Homo sapiens: one gene and its partner. The protein of the gene in region 2 interacts with the protein of the main gene of each other region in a biochemical or structural test. Each region holds a gene or a part of one and is shown on either strand. Other genes may lie near its edges.

What was found.
Region 1: the proteins of TAB1 (region 2) and TRIM26 form a complex in vitro, tested with the Homo sapiens proteins (one study listed by BioGRID).

The regions. Positions count from the first base shown.
Region 1 is NC_000006.12:30,183,940-30,189,562, forward strand, and holds the end of TRIM26 (tripartite motif-containing protein 26), read right to left. Parts: intron 5,595-5,623; coding exon 5,479-5,594; intron 5,261-5,478; coding exon 5,228-5,260; intron 2,620-5,227; coding exon 1,937-2,619; 3' UTR 516-1,936; downstream 1-515.
Region 2 is NC_000022.11:39,423,609-39,430,779, reverse strand, and holds part of TAB1 (TGF-beta-activated kinase 1 and MAP3K7-binding protein 1), read right to left. Parts: intron 4,078-7,171; coding exon 3,855-4,077; intron 2,760-3,854; coding exon 2,597-2,759; intron 766-2,596; coding exon 558-765; 3' UTR 1-557. UniProt on the Homo sapiens protein: Key adapter protein that plays an essential role in JNK and NF-kappa-B activation and proinflammatory cytokines production in response to stimulation with TLRs and cytokines.

The DNA of each region.
Region 1 (5,623 bases), on a different chromosome or scaffold from region 2:
AACTGGGAGACAGAGTGAGACTCCATCTCAAAAAAAAAAAAAAAAAAAAAAAAAAAAAAAAAAAAAAAAAAAAAAATCAGAAAGGACAAGAAAAACAGTTGACTGTGTTAGGATGCAAGGCTGAATCTCTGCACATTCTATTTCCTCTGAGGCAGTGCTTATTTTCCAAGGAAGAATTTTTGGGTGTGCTATACTGGAGGTCTCCCTTCTCAGGGAGAGTCATCACTTGCTCCAAAACGCTGGACCTCAGCTCAAGGGCACCACTGCAGGAGGAATAAAAAGGTGGAGCCACGCAACAACTCGTCTGTGTTCCGCAGTAGGCTCTTTTTGAGGGACTTCCAGAAATGACAGCATGTGTGCAGAGAACAGAAAGCAAAGTTACACTGTTACAGAAGGCACAGAAGGAAAACCTTCGGCTACTGCTATCAGTGGAATTTCTCTGTAGCCAGACTGAGGTCTGGTGGCATTTGAGATATAATATAGATATAGACCTACAAATACAGATCTCCAGGCTGTTCATTCAACAAGTCTTTATTGAGCACCTACTCTGTGCCCAGCACTGCACTAGGTGCCATGAGAATACAAGAGTAGTATAAGATGTTATCCGCCCTCCAGGAGCTTACAAAACTAGAGGCAGAAATAAGATGTACATGTGACTCAGGCAGCATGTGACACACACAAAGTGGGCAGCTCTGAGACAATGGTGGTCAAGTGACCACTGAGGCCCAGAGCCGTTGGAACAGTCTCTTAGAACAGGGTGGAGGACTTAAAACTTGGATGAACAGGGGCTGGCAGAGCACTTGGAATGGGTAAGGACAAGACTGGGAGATCAATTTGGCTGGAGCAGGGGAGCTTGTGTTAAACTGTGATGATGAGGGGCACCTGGACAGAGGTTGGGTCCGTGGGCAATGAGAAGACATGTTACTCCCTCTCTTGACATGAAGACCTGGTGGGCTTGTGGCCTCCTGCTGCCTTCCTTTCCCTGTCTTCCCATCTCCACTCTCTCCTAGGAAAGTGGAACCTGGATGCTGGTAGGGCCAGAGACAGAGGCTTAACACCCTGCTGGGGAACCCGGTCAGAACTCCCGAGGCAGGAGAGGTTCTGCTCCACTGGATGTTTGTCTTGGTGTTTTTGGATGTGCTGATCAAGAGCAAGATGTTCTGGATTCTTAAAACTCCCCTCACAAGGACCAATCTAGAGATAATTTATTGATCAGTGATCACAGCTTGTACCCCAAAGCCGTGTATGTCTGGATCCTTCCCTAAGACCACAGATAGCTCCAGGGAGTCCCACCTCCTTGGCTATGGAAATATGCTCAGCCCTGGTTTCAGAGAAGCCTGGACTCCACTCTGGACCCCATGAGATGATATGCGCTGGTACTCCAGGCTTTAAATGGCCTGGGAAGCCTCAGTGGATTTTGTTTATTTTCAGCATTGCCATGTATGCTTAACTCTGAGTTGGGGTGGGGTAGGTCTGTTTAAAATGCCAGGGAAGGTGGGCAGCAGAGTGGATTTGTGCAAGAAGGAACCTGGGGGGTTTAAGGACAGCAAAATGATCTTAGGCGTAATTGACTGGTTTTTCTGAGGTCTTGCCACACTGGGCAAGAAAATGCTGCATCGGGCCCTTATTCCAGAGAGTGCAGAGCTGGGGCCAAGGTCGTGGTCAAAAAGGAAAGGAGCCCTCATGGACTCCAGGGTCAGAAGTTCCCTCGGGAAACCAGCAGGAGGTGGGAAAAGAGCCCCATTAGGGCAGTAGATGGAGCAACAGCACTGAGTGAGATTTCAGGGGGCCACAGCAATGGGGAGGTGGCTACCAGTGGATATGGGGTCCCCTGCTCCAGGTGCTTAGGCCAGGCATCCCGTCCCCCCATTGAGAGTCCTGGAATTCCAAAGAAGTGAAGCATCTGAGGGTTGGGGCTGGGGGCAGATGTCAGGGCTCAGGGTCTTAGCAGGAGGCGTGTTCCTGGCCACTTGAGCCACAGGAAGGGGACCAGGCGCCGGGTGAAGGTGGCAGTGAAGGTGTAGATGAGTTCCTGTGACTCTGCGTTGGTGAAAGTCACGGTGCCCCCTTCATAATCCAGGGCGATGCCCACTCTCCGGGGCCGCAGTGCTGGGAAAAGCTCAGCCTCGGGGCTGGTGTTGGCCCAGATGCCGGAGGAGGAGAGGCGCAGCGCCCACACGCCATCCTCTGGCCGCAGGGAGAGGTCTCCCTTCCTCTTCACAGAGTCTCTAGCCACCCCCACCATGCAGCTTTCCAGAACTTCCTCCTCTTCCTCCTCCTCTTCTTCCTCTTCATCGCCCAACGATTCCTCATCTTCGTCCGTTTCCCAGTCGTCATATCCATCCCCATAGCCGGCCTCCTCTTCCTCCTCCTCCTCTTCTCCCTCTTCCTCCTCATCCCCCTCTTCTTCATCCTCAGACCAGCCCTCCCTCTCCACTTCCACTTCCCAGTAGACCTTGCCCCAGGTGAAGCCCTTGCTGCCTAGCACCCCAGGCTCACAGTCAAACTGCTGGGGGTGCAGGTAGGCACTCTTGTACAGGCTGGTGTAGGTCACGCACTTCCAGTCCTCTGACAGCTGCAGGTACCCACTGGCCGACTGTGGGTCCAGGGTGACGCTCACTGTGGGGACAAGGGAAAAAAAAAAAAACAGCATCACTGTTTTGTTTTGTTTTTTAAGTCAGAGGGAATAAAATTTATTTTGGCAGATAGCGTTAAACAAAATTAAAGTTGCATACATTAGTAATATAACTCAACATCCTTAATTTGGTATAAGTGTGACACATTTTCTGGCTTTGTATTCTGCTAAATCACCATAACTAAACTGCTTTATAAACATGATATACTGAAATTTAACTTGACTGTTTTCGCTTACGCTCTGATTCCAAACAAAACTTTTCATAAGCTTCCTCTATCTCTGGATCTCTGGGTCCAACTCATCATTAATATCATCCAAGTGTGGATCACCAGTCCCTGAAAAATCTGTTCCATTTTCTTCATAATCCAGAAAAAAAGTCCTCTTTTTCAAGTAACTCTTGATATGCTTCTTGGTAATCCGGATCAGCTGCAGTGAAAGGAACACTATGAAACACAATAACTATGTGAATGACCACTATAAAATGTTGGTTCATTCACATAGTAATTGGGATCTTTTTTGGCTGTTGTATTTCTGTATGATGAAGTTGCATGGACTCTACCCCAATTACTGCACTGGGGTTCTACAAGCTTCAAGAGCATCTGTTTCATGTCTCTGCCACAGCTTGCATCTATAACAACATTTTCAATTTCCTGAATAATTTCTTCCATATCAGTCCTTCCTTTTCCTTCCAAGAATCTTCCAAAACTGACCCTGTCAACTTCAGCAATTTTATTGCACAAATTAAGCTGTCATCCACGGGATTAGAAAAGAGGGCATTCAGGCATTCGGCAACTCCTGAAGACCAACCTGAAGAATATCTGCCCTTGTAACCTGTCCATTTGTTCCTCTGATCTCCAGGTTATGATAAAGCTCTCCCAGAAAGGGTACAAATGCATGAAATTGTTTTGGAGTAACTTCATCCCCTTTTGCAGCTTGATCTTTAATGTCATATTCAGTCCGACATCTTTGAAGTAGAAATTGGCGGAAGGTGCTACTCTCTGTGCTAACTGTCAGATGATGTCAGGTAATTACACAGGTGAGCTCCCATGTAAGAGAAATTTGGGGCTGGGCACGGTGGCTCACGCCTATAATCCCAGCACTTTGGAAGGCCGAGGCGGGTGGATCACAAGGTCAGGAGATCGAGACCATCCTGGCTAACATGGTGAAACCCCATCTCTACTAAAAATACAAAAATTAGCCGGGCATGGTGGTGGGCACCTGTAGTCCCAGCTACTTAGGAGGCTGAGGCAGGAGAATGGCGTGAACCTGGGAGGCGGGGCTCGCAGTGAGCTGAGATCACACCACTACACTCCAGCCTGGAAGACAAAGCAAGACTCCATCTCAAAAAAAAAAAAAAAAAAAAGGCCGGGCGCGGTGGCTCACGCCTGTAATCCCAGCACTTTGGGAGGCCGAGGCGGGTGGATCACGAGGTCAGGAGATCGAGACCATCCTGGCTAACACGGTGAAACCCCGTCTCTACTAAAAATACAAAAAATTAGCCGGGCGAGGTGGCGGGCGCCTGTAGTCCTAGCTACTCGGGAGGCTGAGGCAGGAGAATGGCGTGAACCCCAGGAGGCGGAGCCTGCAGTGAGCCGAGATTGCGCCACTGCACTCCAGCCTGGGCGACAGCGAGACTCCGTCTCAAAAAAAAAAAAAAAAAAAAAAAAAGAAATTTGGGACAGATGTGGCCTCTGAGTTCCACAAGTTCTTGCAAAGCATCATCTGTTGTAACACAAGCATTCAGGGTCTCTGTAAACTGTTCAATTTCAGTTTCAAAACTACCAGCCTGCTCTGTAAGATGGTTCAAGAAACCCTGAACAGGTACTGACAGAGTGGGATAATCCTCACCATCATCCTCATAGGATTCTCTATAATTAGAATAACCTGATAGGTAAAATTTGACGGTATTCACAGACAGCTCAGACATTAATAAAGAAGCTACAACCACCTAAGGTTTAACCACTGCTAACTCAGTTCTGCTATGGGATTTTATCCTGTGAACTAGATGAAGCTCTCAGGGCCTCGTTTGCTCCCAGACAGGCCGACCTCCTCAATGGTTCTCACGAAAGCAAGTGTGAAAGTGAGCCAGGAGGAGACCACCAGTCTTCACAATCCAAGGGGCACCATTCACATCTTGGTCTATGTGGATGGCGCTCCTTGGTGGTTGGTATGCAGTGTACAACCTAACTGCAGGGCTGAGAGGGGGCACAATAGTGGGGCCTGTGGTGGATATGGCCTCTGGTCTTAGGTTGCCCCTGCTGTTTGCTCTGAATATAGGAGCCATGCAGCCAGGAAGATGAGAGAAAGCTCGGCCACAGGAAAAGGACTGGTGGTAGGACCTGTGAGGATAGGAAAAAGAAAAGCAAACACAGGGCAGAGAAGGATCAGACTAGCAAGCAGAGGCCTCTACTGCAGACTAAAGAGTAGGCTGATTAGAAAGTGCAAAGAGGGAGGGGGGCTTCTATTGTGCAGCTGGGAAATTCTTCCTGTTGCAAAAGGGGCTACCTGGGGGAAAAGTGAGCAGTCAGAATCTCTGCAGGCGGAGTTTTCTATATTTGATGTACATCTGGGAAACACCCTCTAGACACTCACCTGTCTTATATTCCAAGTCTCTCAGCAGCTTCCCTGGGGAGAAAAAAGGACAGCAATGACTCAAGTCCCGAAAATTTATGAGCCCATTTCTTGCTCGGGCAGTATCAATTTCCTGATAGGGATCCATGTCTAAGACAAGAGGCCCTCAGAAGAGTGAGGATCGACAAGGTGATGGAAAGGAGCTGGGTGCGCTCTTTCTACGAGGTAGCCCTGCTCTGACTCCCACCCTTTGTGCGCTCCCCAACCCTTACCCTGGAATTCCCTCAGGCCTCGTTGCAGAGAGAGGAGTTTATCTGAGAATTCTCCGGTCTTTTTTTTAACCACTCGAGCAATGGGTTTCCCAACCCAGAACTTCTTCCGTGGATACCTAAGAAGATGACATACATAACAAGCTGT
Region 2 (7,171 bases):
TACAACAGATGACACAACCAAGGCAGGTCCAGGGGTGGGGCCCAGGGACAGATGCGGACACCAGCCTGGGTTCCACTCTGGATGCAGGAGCACAGGGCTGAGAGGCTGGAGAAGTGGAGGGCTACTGTCCCGAGGTGAGGGAGGTGATGGTGGGAGGAGGGGTGGGCTTGGGACAGCAGGGTCTGCTGGGCCTGCAACACTCAGGGTTCACAGGGCGCCTCTTCCTGCTCTGTAGGAGGCTGCTGGGGAGGCTCGGGCGGCTTGCAGGCCCACTGCGGTTTCTATACCTGGCCCTCTGCTCTGAGAAAGGGCGATGGTCCTGGCTGAGGCCATCTGGGAGGAAGTGGCCTTCAGCTTCCCGGGTGGTGACAAGGTATGAACCACAGGTCCAGTCTGCACTCACACACTCTACTGCCCGGAGAGCCATGGGACAGAGTCTGCTGTGGGCAGAGGATGGGGCACCTGCTGGCCGTTGTGGCACAGGCAGATGTTAGGAAAAGGCTGGACCCTGTCCTGCCCCATGCCAGGCCCTGCTTGGGCTGCATTCTCCGGCTGCCCTACGGTGCTGTCACCACGCTCTGCTCGCCATGGTCCACGCTCCAGAGGCGGTAAAACTCAGCAAAGTCCACATAGGGCTCAACACGACCGTCCTCGCCAGGCGGGAGCGAGTGGGCGGGCCGGGAGCGGAAGAGGCCTCCGTCAGAGCTGGAGCTGCTGCTCTGCGTGTGCGTGTTGGTGGACTGCAGGGTTAAGGTCGGGCTTTGGCTGCAGGACAACAGGGGAGGGAGTCAATCAGAAGCAGCCGGGTCAAGGGGCCTGGGGCAGAGTGGGGACAGAATGGCCCCTGCCTCTACCAGCCTCTTGGGCCACAGGCCTTTCTGGCAGAGGTGACCATAGGAGCTGGCCCAGCCAGATGATCTTAGGAACAGATAAAAAGTCAAATTTTAAAGCACCAGATGCATGTGGCTACTTAAATGAACTAAAGGTAAAGAAAATGGGGCTGGGCGCGGTGGCTCATGCCTGTAATCCCAGCACTTTGGGAGGCCAAGACGGGTGGATCACCTGAGGTCAGGAGTTCGAGATCAGCCTGGCCAACACGGTGAAACCCCATCTCTACTAAAAATACAAAAAAAATTTACCCAGGCATGGTGGCGTGTGCCTGTAATCCCAGCTGCTCGGGAGGTTGAGGCAGGAGAATTGGTTGAACCTGGGAGGCAGAGGTTGCAGTGGGCCAAGATTTTGCCATTGCACTCCAGCCTGGGCAACAAGAGTGAAACTCCGTCTCAAAAAAATGGAAAGAAAATGGAACACTCAGTTCAAGCGTCTAATAGCCACAAGTGGCTAGAGACGCCGTGACAGGACAGCACCCACGCGAGCACTCCCGTCATCACAGGAAGTTCCTCGGGTGAAGCTGAACCACCGACTGTCCATTACCATCTCTCTAAACCCGTCCCAACCCAGGACCTACTCAGCAGGGCGGGCAAGGTGTCTTCTTCTAGAAAACCTTCCTTCGCCCCCCTCCCCTTCAATCTCTTCTCATCAGCTGGGTGGGGACGGGCACCCACCTTCTATCACAGCTGGAACTGCCTGTTAGCGCTGCCCAGCACCAGCACAGGGCCAGCCCATGGTGGGACCAACTATGGCTCAGACGCTGAAAGGAGTGAGGAACACAGGCAGGGGAGGAGAGTGGGTTGTCCTGCCTTGTCTAGGGCCACAGCGCTCACACTCTGCTTTGTGGACACAGCTGGAGGACTCCTCCAGGCAGCCCGGCAGGGGTGCTGGAGAGGCCACCCCTACTGCACTCAGGATGCCCAAGGAGCTTGCTCGGCCTGGCAGGCCTTTCTAGCCCCGTGGCAGCAGTCGCAGCATCCACAACCCAGAGGCAGAGGGAAAGGAAGGCCCCCTGATGGGGCAGAGGCATGCAGGCCGCCCACCCCCCTCCAGGGCCTTTCTAATTGGCCACATCCTGCGCACTCCATCCTCAGAGTGGGCTGGGTGTGGCATCTCTATCATTCCATGCAGGGCTGGAATGTGGAAACCAGATCTGGGTCCCCTGGTGTGGGGAGTGCACATTCTAAGGAAGTGAAGGGGGTGGGGTGTACTCCAGACCTGTCAGGCAGGTCTGCGGCTGGAGGGGGCCTGGCCGCATCCCCCTCAGGCTGTTGCCTCTACCTCGCCCCCTGCCCCAAAACCAGAGAACTCACTTCAAAGCTAAAATCAAGCACATTAGCCAGAAAGCATGGGCTCTGACAAGCCAGTACAGGCCAGACAATGTCCTCAAGCAAGGACACCACAGGAAGCCACCCCACATCACACCGAGGTGAGGAATGAAAGGAAACCTTCCACTGAATGAAACCAGCAGATGGGCCCACAAGAAAATACGAGAAGTAGGCTGGGACCATCAGCCACCTGACCAAAAATCGCACCTGCCTCAGTTTCTAGGGAGACCTCCCTCACCAGGCACGGAGCTGGGGAATTCCAGACCCCAGGGCATCTCATCCACAAGCCTTGGCCCCATGGCCATTTCTGTCCTGGTGCCACAGGACACACACGGGGGTGACAGGGCTGGGGGTGGCTCAGTGGGGAAGGGACTTACTTGGTGAGGGTGGGGGTGGCTTCGTCCAGGGTGGAAGCACTGTGAGCCCCGTTGACCATCTGGCCCTGGGAGGGCATGACAAGGGAGAGGGTCACGCTGGTCTTGCTGGTGCTCTGGGCGCTGGAGTATGGCACAGACACAGGGTACACTCGTCCTCCTGCAGCTTTGGGAGGAAGAGAGTGGGGGCCTCAGGCAGCAGCTGAGGAGAAACCCAGGGTAGCAGGGGCATAGCTGCTCCATGGCCTGATGGGGTGGTGCCTGAGGGCTGAGTGTGGGTGGCGGCCATGCCTGGCTCCCCAAGCCCAGTGGGGCCCCCTGCCCCTTGGGACAGCTCAGGAGGAGTGTCCCTTGTCAGAGACTCTTCCAGGCCGGGCTGAGAACTCCTTATAGCAGTAAATCCTGCTGGTGCTCGAGTTGCCTCAAGGAAAGGGTTACTGCCTGGCTTCCCATGGATGCTTTAATTCAGAGGATAAGTTTGCTCCCAGTTGAGGCTGACCCAATAAAAATATGGTTGCAATAAAAACAGGCCAGAGAAACTCCAATAACCCTGGTGTCCATGGGAGAACAAATCTGTCTGTGGATGCCTGAGCTTTATCTAAGATTTGCTTGTTTAAAGCAAAGAAAAAGAAATGCAGCCCTCAGGAACCGAAGGTCTTAGTGCTGAGCAGCACTGGGGGGAGCACGGGAAAGAGCAGCCACCTCTTTTCCTGAGAACTTGGTTGAAGAATGACATAGGTAAAAAGCAAAACGTCCTTCTCCCTGCCCTGCTCCAGTGCAGCCCAGGGACAGACAGGCCTTGGGGCCTGACCATCTGTCCACATGCCTAATCTCTTCCAGGTCCCTTCATTCTTCAGCCTCAGTTTCCCTCTCTGGAAAACAGGGGTACCACCTGTCTTTAGGGTTGCCCATGAGGACTGAAGGGAATAAGGCAGGCTGTGTGCCTGGCACAAGGGAGGCACTCAATCAGTGGTGGCCATCATCTCTATTATGTGGCTTCAGGGCTCTGTGAATTGCTTGCTGGGGCACTCAGGTTCTGGGAGGTTGCCGGGGCAGGTGGTATTAACCTCATTTTACAGACAAAAGAGCAAAAATCAACACTCAGCTCAGAGAGGCTAAAAATCAGAGAACCTGAATTAGAGCCACTCAGAGCCAGGCCTCCTGACTCCATCTCCGTTTCAAGCAGCCTCGGGGGCTCTGCACCCACCTCTGGCCCCCAGATGGCATCCCCAGGCACTGCCTGTCTGCACAGCACACGTACCTGGGGCTGGGCTCGGTGTGGGCTGGCTCATTTCGCCCAGCGGGTAGCCAAAGTTCCTCACTAGCAGGGTCATGTCCTCGTGCCGGGGGCAGAACCTGGCACGCTCCCCACCACTGGCGAAGGTGTCGCTGTGGATGCGCTTCACCCGGTCCACGACGGCCTGGGCCACTGCGTCCAGGGAGGTCTGCTTGGCAAACTCAGTGTCAATCATCGCAGCAATCTCCTGGGGGAGGGGGTAGGAAGAACCTGGTAAGGAACGAGGTGCGGCCTGGGGGGCATGGGCCATAATCTTGGAGCCTAAAATCAGGAGATTCAGTGGTCAACAGCCCAGCAGGTGAAGGAAATGCCTGCCAGCCAAGTTTGCAATCTGAGCCTTTCAAGGTATTCAGGATAATCCTTCTGGAACTTTCTCATTAGGAAGTGTGTGCTCTTGTGATTGCTCTAATTGTTGGGTGCACACCTCTAGGATGGGGAGAACATCCATTTGACTGGGTGAATACGAGTATTAACTAACAGTGGTGTGAGAGCACTCTGCCAGCCACTAAAAAGCCTAGTAGCAAGTGTCATTATTATGAAACACTCTTTCCTGGAACAAACTTGTTGTAGGCGATGTTATACATGCTAGGATTTTGTCAGGAACTGGGGATACAGAATGAAAACAGGGTCCCTGACCTCAGAGAAGTCCCTGTCTAGTATACAGATGTTCCTCAATTTAGGATGGGACTATGTCCTGACAAACCCACTGTAAGTTGAAAATATCATAAGTTGACCGGGCACAGTGGCTTGCGCCTGTAATCCCAGCACTTTGGGAGGCTGAGGTGGGAGGACTGCCAGAGGTCAGGAGATCGAGACCAGCTTGGCCAACATGTTGAAACCCCGTCTCTACTTAAAAATACAAAAATTAGCTGGGCATGGTGGCACATGCCTGTAATCCCAGCAACTTGAGAGGCTGAGGCAGGAGAATTGCTTGAGCCCAGGAGACGGAGGTTGCAGGGAGCCGAGACCAGCCTGGCCAACAGGGCAAGACTCTGTCTCAAAAAAAAAAAAAAAAAGAAAATATCGTAAGTTGAAAAAGCATTTGGCCGGGCGTGGTGGCTCACACCTGTAATCTCAGCACTTTGGGATTCTGAGGCAGGCCGATCATGAGGTCAGGAGATCGAGACCATCCTGGCTAATACGGTGAAACCCCATCTCTACTAAAAATACAAAAAATTAGCCGGGCGTGGTGGCGGGTGCCTGTAGTCCCAGCTACTCGGGAGGCTGAGGCAGAATGGCGTGAACCCGGGAGGTGATCAGTAAGCCCAGATCGAGCCACTGCACTCCAGCCTGGGTGACAGAGCGAGACTCCATCTCAAAAAAAAAAAAAGAAAAGAAAAAGCATTTAATGCACCTAATCTACTGAACATCATCACTTAGCCTAGCCTACCTTAAATGTGCTCAGAACACTTCTATTAGCCTACGGCTGGGCAAAATCATCTAGCACAAAGCCTATTTTCATTATTATATAAGAAAATGTTGAATCCCATGTAATTTTTTTTTTTTTGAGACAGAGTCTCACTGTGTTGACCAGGCTGGAGTGCAGTGCTGTGATCTCAGCTCACTGCAAGTTCCATCTCCCAGGTTCAAGAATTCTCCCGCCTCAGCCTCCCGAGTAGCTAGGATTACAGGCGTGCGTCACTATGCACCAGATAATTTTTTTTTTTTTTTGTATTTTTAGTAGAGATGGGGTTTCACCGTATTAGCCAGGATGGTCTCGATCTCCTGACCTAAAGTGATCTTCCCGCCTCAGCCTCCCAAAGTGCTGGGATTACAGGCGTGAGCCACCACGCCCAGCCGAATCTCATGTAATTTATTGAGTACTGTTTTGACAGTGAAAAACAGAATGGTTGTAGGGGTATGGGAGCACAGTTCCCACTGAATATGTATCACTTTCTCACCATCATAAAGTTTCTTTTGGGCGGGGCAGGAGGGCAGGGACAGGTAATAGGAAATGACCTGCACCTGGTCCTGGTGGGCTCAGTTTCAACACTAAGCAGCAACGTCACTTCTGGCAAGAACCTGAACTCCGTGGACCCCAAATTCCCTACTCTACCTGGAAATAAGCCCCTGTCCCTCTATGTTATAAGGCTACTGGAAGGAATGGTAAGCTTATATAACAGGTAAAGAAATCAGAACACAGGCTGGGCGCAGTGGCTCATGTCTATAATCCCAGAACTTTGGGAGGCCAAGGCAGGTGGATCATCTGAGGTTACGAGTTCAAGATAAGCCTGGCCAAAAAGGCAAAACCCCATCTCTACTAAAAATACAAAAATTAGCCGGGTGTGGTGGTGGCACATGCCTGTAGTCCCAGCTACTCAGGAGGCTGAGGCAGAAGAATGACTTGAACCCGGGAGGTGGAGGTTACAGTGAGCCGAGATTGCACCACTGCACTCCAGCTTGGCCAACAGAGCAAGACTCCATCTCAAAAAAAAAAAAAAAAAAAAAAAAGAAATCAGAACACAGGGAACAGGGGATAGTTAGGCACTTGAGACTTTTTCGAAGTAGATCTGCATTCAATCCAGCAGTCTGGGCATCTACCTAAAGGAAAATAAGTCATTATATGAAAAAGATACTTGCACACGTATGTTTATAGCAGCACAATTCACAATTGCAAAGATGTGGAACCAGCCTAAGTGGCCATTGACTAATGAGCAGATAAAGAAAATGTATCTATAAACTATGGAATACTACTCAGCCAGTAAAAGGAAAGAATGAATGTCTTTTGCAGCAACTTGGATGGAGATGAAGGCCATTATTCTAAGTAACACAGGAGTGGAAAACCACAAACTATGTTCTCACTCGTAAGTGGGAGCTAAATGATGGGAATGCACAGGCATACAGAGTGATATAATGGAACTTTAGAGACTCAAGGCGGGAGGATGGCAGTGGTGCTAGGGATAAAACACTATACATTAGTTACAATGTACACTATAAAACACTATACATTAGTTACAACGTACACTATAAAACACTATACATTAGTTACAATGTACACTATAAAACACTATACATTAGTTACAATGTACACTATAAAACACTATACATTAGTTACAATGTACACTATAAAACACTATACATTAGTTACAATGTACACTATAAAACACTATACATTACTTACAATGTACACTACTGGAATAACTGGTTTACTAAGATCTCAGAATTCACCACTACATAATTCATCCCTATAACAAAAAAATACTGGTACCTCAAAAGCTACTGAAATAAAAATTAATTTTCAAATTTTAAAGAAGACTTTTTCCTCATGATATTGATTGATT